2 separate regions of the Homo sapiens genome follow, and region 2 is linked to region 1. Evidence: fine-mapped expression QTL. Tissue or cell type: whole blood. Region 1 holds a variant in brackets; the other region holds the start of a gene. All regions are shown on one strand. Distances are from middle to middle.

Evidence for each region. PIP is the estimated chance that this variant, and not a neighbour inherited with it, causes the effect.
Region 2: it holds the start of ADRM1, and the variant in region 1 is fine-mapped to the expression of ADRM1 in whole blood (INTERVAL, PIP 0.94).

Annotation. Positions count from the first base shown.
Region 1 is chr20:62,225,755-62,230,767 of GRCh38, reverse strand. LOC105369209 (a long non-coding RNA gene) reads right to left here and starts at 2,525. Exons shown (of 4, transcript NR_160555.1): 1 at 2,467-2,525. RefSeq lists an enhancer at 1,762-2,662. The variant G/C (reference allele first, on the strand shown) is at 2,780.
Region 2 is chr20:62,300,372-62,305,384 of GRCh38, reverse strand. ADRM1 (ADRM1 26S proteasome ubiquitin receptor) reads right to left here and starts at 2,388. Exons shown (of 10, transcript NM_007002.4): 1 at 2,336-2,388; 2 at 1,604-1,817; 3 at 808-924. The coding sequence starts at 1,816. RefSeq lists silencers at 2,279-2,738, 2,759-2,878.

The DNA of each region.
Region 1 (5,013 bases):
TCCCAGGCACTCTCCCCTGCTCCCCCAGGGACAGCCCAGGTGGGACAGCTTGTTCCCTTGTTTTCTGGTTGTGTGTGTGAGTGGAAGTGTGTGTGGCAGAGTGTGTGTGTGAGAGTGTGAATGTGAGTGTGTAGTGTGTGTGTGGCATTGTGGGAGTGTGTGTGGAAGTGTGAATGAATGTGTGTGTGAATGGAAGAGTGTGGAATTGGGGGAAGTGTATGAGTGAGCGTGTGTGAAAGTGTTAGTGTGTGTGAGTGGAAATGTGTGTGAGTGGAATTGGAGTGTGTGCGTGTGTGGAAGTGAATGAGTGTGAGTGTGTGAGTGGAAGAGTGTGTGGAATTGGGAGTGTGTGTGTATGGGTGTGTTGAGGGTGTGAGTATGGAAGTGAGTTTGTGTGTATGTGTGACTGTGTGAGCATAAGTATGTGGAATGGGGGAAGTGTGTGAGAGTGAGTGTGTGTGGAATGGGGAAGTGTGAGAGTGAGTGTGTGTGTGGAATGGGGAAGTGTGTGAGAGTGAGTGTGTGTGGAATGGGGGAAGTGTGTGAGAGTGAGTGTGTGTGGAATGGGGGAGTGTGTGAGAGTGTGTGTGGAATGGGGGAGTGTGAGAGTGTGTGTGTGTGGAATTGGGGAAGTGTGTGTGTGAGTGTGTGTGTGGAATGGGGGAAGTGTGTGAGAGTGAGTGTGTGTGTGGAATGGGGGAAGTGTACGTGTTTGTGAGTGTGTGTGGAATGGGGAGAATGTACGTGTTTGTGAGTGTGTGAGTGTGGAATAGGGAAGTGTGTATGTGTTTGTGTGTGTGTGGAATGGGGAGAAATGTGTGTGTTTGAGTGTGAGTGTGTGAGTGTGGAATGGGGAAGTGTGTATGTGTTTGTGTGTGTGGAATTGAGGAGAAGTGTGTGAGAGTGAGTGTGTGTGTGGAATGGGGGAGTGTGTGAGAGTGTGTGTGTGGAATGGGGGAGTGTGTGAGTGGAATGGGGAAGTGAGTGTGTGTGGAATGGGGGAAGTGTGTACGTGTTTGAGTGTGTGTGGAATGGGGAGAATGTACGTGTTTGTGAGTGTGTGAGTGTGGAATGGGGAAGTGTGTATGTGTTTGTGTGTGTGGAATGGGGAGAAATGTGTGTGTATTTGAGTGTGAGTGTGTGAGTGTGGAATGGGGAAGTGTGTATGTGTGTGTGGAATTGAGAAGTGTGTGAGAGTGAGTGTGTGTGGAATGGGGACAAGTGTGTATGTGTTTGAGTGTGACTGTGTGTGTGTGTGGAATTGGAGAAGTGTGTGTGAGTGTGAGTGTGGAATGGGGAAGTGTGTGTTTGTGTGGAATTGAGGGGAAGTGTGTGTGAGTATGTGTGAATTGAGGGGAAGTGTGTACGTATTTGAGTGTGAGTGTGTGGGGAATGGGGGGAAGTATGTTTGAACGTATGAGTCTTTGAGTGAGTGTGTGCGGGATGAGTGTGTGTGTTGAGTGTGGGGGATGAGTGTGTGAGTGTGTGGGATGAGTGTGTGTTGAGTGTGTGGGGGGTGAGTGTGTGGGTGTGTGGGATAAGTGTGGAGTGTGTGTGAGTGTGGGTGAATGTGTGGGTGTGTGTGAGTGTTGAGTGTGTGAGTGTGTGGGATGAGTGTGACTGAGTGTTGAGTGTGTGTGTTGAGTGTGTGAGTGTGTGTGGGGTGAGTGTGAGAGTGTTGAGTGTGTGAGTGTTGCGTGTGCGAGTGTGTGTGGGATGAGTGTTGAGTGTGTGTGTGTATGGAAAGGCGTGTGGGCAGCAAGTGACAGTGATTCGTGCCCAGACCCAGGGGAGGGGAGTCTGCCTCTAGAGCAATTGTCGCCCCCTGCCCTGGCTCAGGGCCTTGTGGAGGGAGGAACTGTTTCTCCCACCCTGACCTGTCCCTTGCAGGGCAGAAGGGGACAGTGTCAGTTTCCTCCCGACACCTCTGTCACAGCTCGCACCAAACACCCTCAGACACACCCGCAGACCCACAGACGCACGTGCACACACACATAGCCCAGAGAGACACGCACAGACATACCCGGATGCACAGAGACGTGTACACTGACAGACGCAGACATAGACACACGCACGCACACGCATGCATTCTTTGCCTGCTGCTTGGGAGCCCCCATCCTTCCTCCCCCAGCACACGGGGGCGGCCACATTCACTGGGTCCCGGCCCCAGCACTGATCAAAGCTGGGTTAGTTTTTCCAGCAGGCACCAGGTCCCCAGGAGCTGCCCTGGATCTGCGGGACTCCAGGGAGTCAACAGAGAGGGTCGTCCCCGTCCCTGTCCCCATCTCTGTCCTCGTCCTCGTAGGGCCCAGACTCCCCCTCCAGGACGAGGCTCCCTGAGCCCACCTGCACTGCTCAGCTCCTCCACGTGGCGCCTCTTCCCGACCTTCTGCAGGGGAAGAGGACCCAAGGCTCCAGGAGGGGTCAGGGCGCTGCGTTTGCCCTAGGGGTGAGGGCATACACTACCTGGGACCACGGCCAGCAGCTCTGGGAACAGCACAGGCAATGGGAAGACCTGGAATAACCCTGAAGGCTTCTGGGAGGAGGCACCCATAGGGGAAGGTGCCGGGTGGGGCAGAGCGTGAGGGGCGTGTGTCTGGGGAGGGGCATGGAGGTGCAGGAGGTGGGGACAGAGGGAGGAGGAGGGGCCACCTCCTCACCAGGCTTCAGGTTCCAGGGTAAGGCTGGCCTCTCAGCCTTACCCTGAGAACGGATCCAGGCGGCAGCCAGATGGAGACCGGCCTGCACAGTACTCACAACGGGCCTCCAGTGTGCCCCC[G/C]CCGTGGCCATCCTTGCTTCCTCCCCAAACAGACTACCCCACCCAGGCGGGAGGCAGGGGGTGGACAGAGACGGGGCTAGCCCTCCAGCAGCCCTGGGCGGTGAGCACAGGTGTGCTGGCCACATGTCCCACGTTCTTGTCTGTCGCCCTCCACTAGATCCACCAGGCCCCTGCCTATGCTGACCTCAGCTGCTGGAGGGGAGGGCCCCAACGGCCTGTGTGTGGAGCAGCCAGGAGCACGTGGCCCCTGGCTGGCCTGCCTAGCCTTGCGCCCTGGATGGGGGCCTGCAGGATGGACCGGGGTCACCAAGCCTGGTCCCCACTTGGTGGGGGACCTAGGCTGAGGGGGTGGGCAAGGTATTCAGGGCAGACACCAGCCGGGTCTCAAGGCACCCTGGCATGGGAAGCAGGAGGAGCTGGATGCCAACCAGCTTGACGGTCCAGACATCCCCCTCCCCCAGGGCCTGTCCCTACCTCTGGCCTGGCCCAGCGGCCCCCTGGCTTGATGCTTACCACTGTCCAGGGCCTGATTCACCCCCAGGCACCAGCAGGGATCGGGGGTCATGGCCTGGGTTTGGCTCGGAGGCCCCCCAGGCAGTGCTGCTCTGTTGGATCATAGCCACAGGAGGCCCCACCAAATGCTCTTACGGATGGGGCGAGGGCTCCTGGGCTGGGGCTGGGTCCCCCACAGCTGGACTTGGGTTTGGGGCTGGGTCCCAGCTGCCCTGGAGCCCTCTCGGCCTTTCAGAGGGTTCTGGAAAAGCACAGTGGAGACCGTTCTGCTTTCTGTCTTCTTTTCTGTTTTCTCTATCACGTCTTCATGCCTAGCCCACGGAGGGAGGCTGCACAGATGCAATCTGTTCCATTCATTCAGCGAATACTTCTCAGCCAGCCCTAGGAGGTGCACACTGCACGCCAGCAACAGTCTGGCTCACACGGAGGGACTTTCCGGGGAGGCAGGAGCTCCTTTCCTCCGGCAAAGATTTTTTATTCCTCCAGTTCTCCGGCAGCCTCTGCACTCACCGGGCTGTTGACCCTCAGATCAGACCTGGGTTCTCAAGACCGCCTCCAGGCACCACCTCCTCCAGGGAGCCTTCCCGGGATCACTCCTTCTCTCGTGCTTGATGTCTCCACCGGGCGCCATCCTTAGGAGGGAAGAGCGCTGGGTCAGGCTCCATTCAGTTCTGCACTCTCCCTGCCCCAGCCTCTGCCCTCGGACCCAGGCCCCAGGGCTCAACAGGCCCCCAGTCTCAGCAGAAGGAGCTGAGGTGTGATTGGAGCTTGGTTTTCTGGGGGCCGCTGTCCTGGCCTGTGGTGTGGGTGTGCCCCTGCCTCTTTATTTATTTTCTGTAGAGACAGGATCTGTCTGTGTTGCCCAGGCTGGTCTTGGGCTCCTGGTCTCAAGCAATCCTCCTGCCTTGGCCTCCTGAAGTGTTGGGATTACAGGCATGAGCCCCCACGCCCAGCCTGCGACCCTGTCCCTTAAGCTGGCTGTATCAGCCCTGGGTGAGCAGGGAGCAGACCCCGAGCGGGCTGCAGGCTTCCTTCCTACGGATGGACCACGGGTGGCTCCACAGCCATCCTGCCCGGGCCCCTTGAGACCTGCCAAACTGCCATCACCCATCACTGCCCCTCTCCCTGCTCTCTCAGCCTCACTTCTCACAGCAGCCAGGGAACAAGAGAAGCAGATGCCCCGAGAGAAGGTCATCTCTGCAGTCGCACTTTCCCTGCCGCCCCAACCACGGCCAGGCTCTCTGTGCCCAGGCCCACTGTCCCAGCAGGATGGCACTTGGACCCCTGAGGCATTGCTGGGGGATTAAGCAGGGGCTCCTCGCGGGGACCTCAAAGCAGCTTCAGGGATGACCACCACTACTCCCCCTCCACTCCTCGTGCATCCTCAGCCAGGGTTTGAGTCCACCGTTGTGAGCTCAGGCATCACGATTGCCCAAGCCAGGCCAATGCCAGGCCAAAGCAGCTGATCCTGGGGTTCTGTTGGCTGAAAGGCAGCCTCCTCTCCTGCCTGGGGATGGAGGAGGGGACAGGGGAGTCACTTGGAGCTGCAGGGAGAGACCTCAGGGAGATAATCCCTGCCTGAGGATGAAGTGCACACAGGATAAGACGAAATGGAGGGAGCAACTGTACTTGAGCCCAGATGCAGCTGTGCCTGAAACTCACTGCCCCTGGACTTCGTGGGCGTAGGAAACAGCACCTGCTCCTTGTCCTTAGGCCCTTTG
Region 2 (5,013 bases), 75 kb before region 1:
TGACCAGCAACACAGACCATGTGCTCCACAGAGACCTCAGCCAGGGCCACCCCTGCTCTTGAAAGTGCCAAGGGGGGTGGGGTGGGGACAGCAGCTCCACCTCTGGCAGAGAGCATGGCCTTCTCTCTCCACACTGCAAACGCATGCACACGCTTCCTGACCACAGGCCCGCCACCAGTTTTCACCTACAGATGATACTGGCTTATGGAAAATGATCTGTGTACCGGGAAATTCTTTGCAACACTGCCTGTAACAGCACAAAAAACGGCAACAAGCTCAATGGTCACTGACAGATGGCAGAATGAGCAGCGGCCTCTAGACCCAAAAGACGCTCTGCAGCTGTGGGTAAGAGAAACCCTGGGCACTGACACCCCTGGCCTCCAGGACACACTGCCAGGGAAGGGGCAGGACTGTGGAAAGTGTGAGCAGGATGCTTCGTTTCTGTGAGCACCAGCAGGGAAGCCACACAGGGGCCTCTGCCTCTGCTGTGGGGGCCTCAGTGACCCACGGCAAGGGGCAGAGAGAGGGCACTGGGCATCGTTAGAACCAGGGCCAGCATGTCTGTCTGCCTGGAAATTTCACACCGCAATCGGTTGCCCGCAGCCCAGCCTGGAGCCTCCGTACTCTGGGAGAGGACCTCGGCCCCAGGTAGCATGCACCGCAGCCCTGAGGTGGCATCTCAGGCCGTGTGGCCGGGTGTGGCCGGCGCCTGCTGGTTTATAAAAGCCAATTGCACCACACTGTAAGCAAGTTCCTAACCGAATCGCAGGGCAACAAAAAGGCACAACCCCAAGGCCTGCCCCATACCTGCATCCAGAAGAAAAGCCGCTTGGACCCTGCCTTGAACTTCAGCACGTAGACCCTCCCGCTGGGGCACTGCGGCACCCGCTTGAACTCACAGTCGTCAGGGAAGATGATCAAGTCCTGGCAAGCCAGGGGAAGAGAGAGTCAGTGGCGCAGATGGCATCACTGTGCCCAGTCTCAGGAGAGCGTACTGAGCCCTGGGTCTAACCGGGTGGGGTGCGCAAGGGGCAGCTAAGCCGCCAGACCCCTCGCTGGCAGGGTCTCCACAAGGCAGAGAAGCCAGGGTCAGAGACAGCCCATGAAAGGCAAGGCCGGGGGAGAGAGCAGGGAAAGGGGCCTTTCAGATGGCAACGGGGTTTCTGAGACGTGCTGGAAACAACATTCCCAGAGTAGTTAAAAAGTCAACGCTGAACTGCTCTCAAATGTAACAAAGAACAACTAAGAGTTTGAAAAACAAAGAAGACTGAGTGAAGCCGCCAGGCACAGAGCTCCAGGCTCTCCAGGGCCACACCTCCAACCCCAGGCACCTCACACGGACAGTTCAAGGCCAGGCACAGAGCTCCGGGCTCTCCAGGGCCACACCTCCAACCCAGGCACCTCACACGGACAGTTCAAGATACACAGTGGCCGAGATGCCCCTGTCACCGCGGAAACCAGGACGACCCATCAGCAGGGCAGTCGATGACGGCCCCACGAGCGGTCCCCAGATGCGGCCAAGCCCCCACCGCGAACTCCAAAGCGAGGACTCCGAGGGCCCGAGAAGTCGCCTGTCCTGCTGCTGCGGCTCAGGGACACTCACGTCTTCCACGTTCCCGGACGTCCTGTCCTTCCAGCAGAAGTGAATAAGCGAGTCGTCCGTCTGCTGAATGTACACCAGCCCTTTCCGCTTATCCGGAGTCACGGTGGTCCCCTTCAGGGACATCTTTCCCGCCCGAAACTCCACCAAGTACTTGTTGGAGGCGCCCCGAGAGCCTGGCACCAGGCTTGGAAAGAGCGCGCCTGAGGTCGTCATCCTGAAAGCGCGGAGAGGACGCTGAGACGCGGCGGTCACTGTCGCCTGCGGTCCGGCAAGCTCCCGCCCCCTGGGGTGTTTGCGAGCAGGGGGCCTGCGCCCAGAGCTGCCTAAGGCAGACTCAGACACGCCGGGCTGCCTTTCCGCGTTTGCCCCGCTCACGACGATCGCACCGCCCGCACTCGGCGCTGGGCCGGGGCAGCCCCGCCAAGCCTAGTGGGGCCGGCCCTAGGCTTGACGCCGTCTCCGCGGGGCACCAGCCTCGACGCGCCACCCCGGCGACCCGCTCCGCGGGGCAGACCCGCCCGAGCTCCCGCCGAGCCCCACGTTCAGAGCCGCAGGCGGAACCGGGGCGGCGCCCGAGACCCCAGAACCCCCGCCCGGCCCGGCCCCCGCAGGCCCCACCCGCCGCGCCGGCCACCTTCTCGTCTTGGCTGCCCCCGCCCCATCCTTGGTCCAGCAGCCCCTGCCCCCGCCTCCGGTCGCCCCCGGCCGCCCCAGGCCCGGCGACTCCCGCACCTGCCTCGCGCCCACACTCGTTCGAGAGGCGCCGTCCGGGCTCGCTCTTCCTCCTCGGCGCCTGCCGGGCCCCGCCGGAAACCCGCGTTCGGCCCGCCCCGCCTGCCGCTCTCGCCGCCGATTGAGCCCCGTAAGCCGCGCAGCCGGCTCTAACCTGCCAACGATTGGCGAGGGCGACCGTCCATCGCACTCGCTCCTCCCCGGTCCGCCCCCGCGCCGGCGGCTCTTTTCCGGCGGAAGCGCGGGCCGCAGGGCGCTTGGACCAGAGCGGCCCCTATTGTTGCTGTGTCATAGGGGAGCGGCGGCGGCCCCTAGAGGCGGCGCCAGGGACCACAGGCGGGTTTCAGAGGGGCGCTGGGGAACTGCTCAGGTGGGGCCGAGCCCACCCCTCGGCGTCGCCCGCCCGGGCGGGCAGAGCTGTCACTCGTGTGGCTGAGCCAGGGGTTAGGCGGAGGCCGAGGAGTGCGGTCCGGCTGTGGGCGGCGGGCACCAGGGCTACGCATAGAAGTGACCATGGGTTCAGCGCTTTGGGGACCCAGGCGGGAGCTGGAGTCCACGCGTCCGGGAGAGCAGGGGTCCGGGAGGGTAGAGCGAGGGTGAGAACCGTGATATGGTCTCAGCTGTATACATCTAGTCCCGCAGGGGTCCGGGAGGGCAGGGGTCAGGAAGGGGTGGGTCCGGGAGGAGAGGGGTCCCGAGAGGGGAGGGGCTCCTGGAGGGGAGGGATCTGGGAGGGGTGAGTCCGGGAGGGGAGGGGTTCCCGGAGGGGAGGGGGCCCGGGAGGGGAGAGGGTCCCGGAGGGGAGGGATCTGGGAGGGGTGAGTCCGGGAGGGAGGAGTCAGGGAAGGCCTGAGTCCCAGACGGGTAGGGTCCTGGAAGGGAGGGGTCCTGGAGGGCAGGGGCTCACCCTCTGGACGCCTGGATGGGAAAGGCCACAGGGTAAAAAGGCGGCAGTCGCCCGCCAGTGTTGTGTAACTTTGAGTCACTTTGACACAAACTAAAGCGAAGACAACAGATAGTGTTTGTGGCGCCCCAGCCGGCTGCTGAAGGGACACGTTCTTTGGGATTTGCCTACAGCGACGCCAGGCGGGGGCTCTTAGAGGGCTCAGGCGCGGTGGCTCACGCCTGTAAACCCAGAACTTTGGGAGGCCGAGGCGGGCGGATTACTTGAGGCCAGGAGTTCAAGACCAGCCTGGGCAACATGGTGAATGAAACCCCGACTCTACTAAAAATGCAAAAATTAGCCAGGTATGCTGGCACATGCCTGTAATTCCATCTACTCAGGAGGCTGATGCACGAGAATCGCCTGAACCCGGGAGGTGGAGGTTGCAGTGAGCCGAGATTGCACCACTGCACTCCAGCCTGGGCGACAGAGGAAGACTCCTTCTCAAAAAAAAAAAATAATAATAATAATAGTAATAAAATAGAGAGGTCAGGCGCTTCGTGAGAACCCTGAGGTGCAGTGGCCTCTGCACCCCAGTTAAGCAAGACTAGATGTTTGCAGCTGAGACTGTGCCAGGGTCCTCAGGTTCTCCTTTGCCCATCGCTCACTTCCTTCTTTCCTTCAGATACTTCACTCCCTTCGGGCGCTCCCCGGGGTCACCGTGTGCTTGGTGGCTCACCCTCAGAGTGGATGCACAGCTGTGTGCTTACGTGCTCTCTGAGGTCTTTAGGTGTGTGTTTTCACTCACCCTTGTTGGGAGATGCGTTGGTGTTGATGCTGGCAGCTCCAGTCCTTTCATTCTGCAGGGAGCCTACTACTCAGGCCTCCATTGTCTCGGTGGCAGAGCTTGTGCCAGTTATGTTTAGTTGCCAGCTTTTGACTGTCATAATGCTTCCATTTGAAACATTGATTGAGCTAAAGATTCACGTTTTTTGTTTTGGAAAATGTAGCCACTTTTCATTTTAAAATGTGTGTTAACAGGTAGTAAGTTTGTTATTGTTATTTTTATGTAGCTAAATAATTTTAAATGTCCTCTTAATTCCTAGTATGGTAAATGTCAATAGATAAAGCTCACATAAACAAAAGCTCTTTGGGGTCCTGTATAATTTTTAAGAATTTAAACGGTTCCAGAAGCTAAAGGGCTTGAGAGGGGCTAACACAAAGCTCTGTGGCCCGCTGGTGACAGGTGCGTCACTGATACTGCAGCCCCATCCTCGTGCCCTCGTGTAAAACAGGGAAAAGGTGGAAATGAGAAAACCCAGCCTGGCTTTCCCGGCAAGAAGGTGGCAAGCGTCACTTGTTTATGTCACAGACAGTAAAGCAGAAGCCCCAGGGTCCGCAGGGGCCAAGTGTGCAGAGGCCAACGCAGTGGCCAAGAGGACCCTGGATTTACCATTTCCTCCACTTCCTGGAGGCCCTGTGGCCTGGGATGGCTCAAACAACCCCAGAACTCTTTACCCACACTTCAAGCGAAACTCCCACATTCCTATGAGCATGCTGCAGTGAGGAAACGAGCCGCAGCCAGGCAGGCTTTGCAGAGGCCACTGTGGGTGCCCGCTGCCAGCCCACGGGCTCTATGCGTGTGTGGGGTATGGCACCTGGAGCACCCAGCAGCCCAGGACTCCAGCTGTGGCCACAGAGTGGGTGGGGGGGCACACGCTGCTTTGTGTCAGGAATCTCGGACTTGAAGCACACACAAGGTCAGAAGGGCTGTGTGACATGTGCAGCTGTCCCT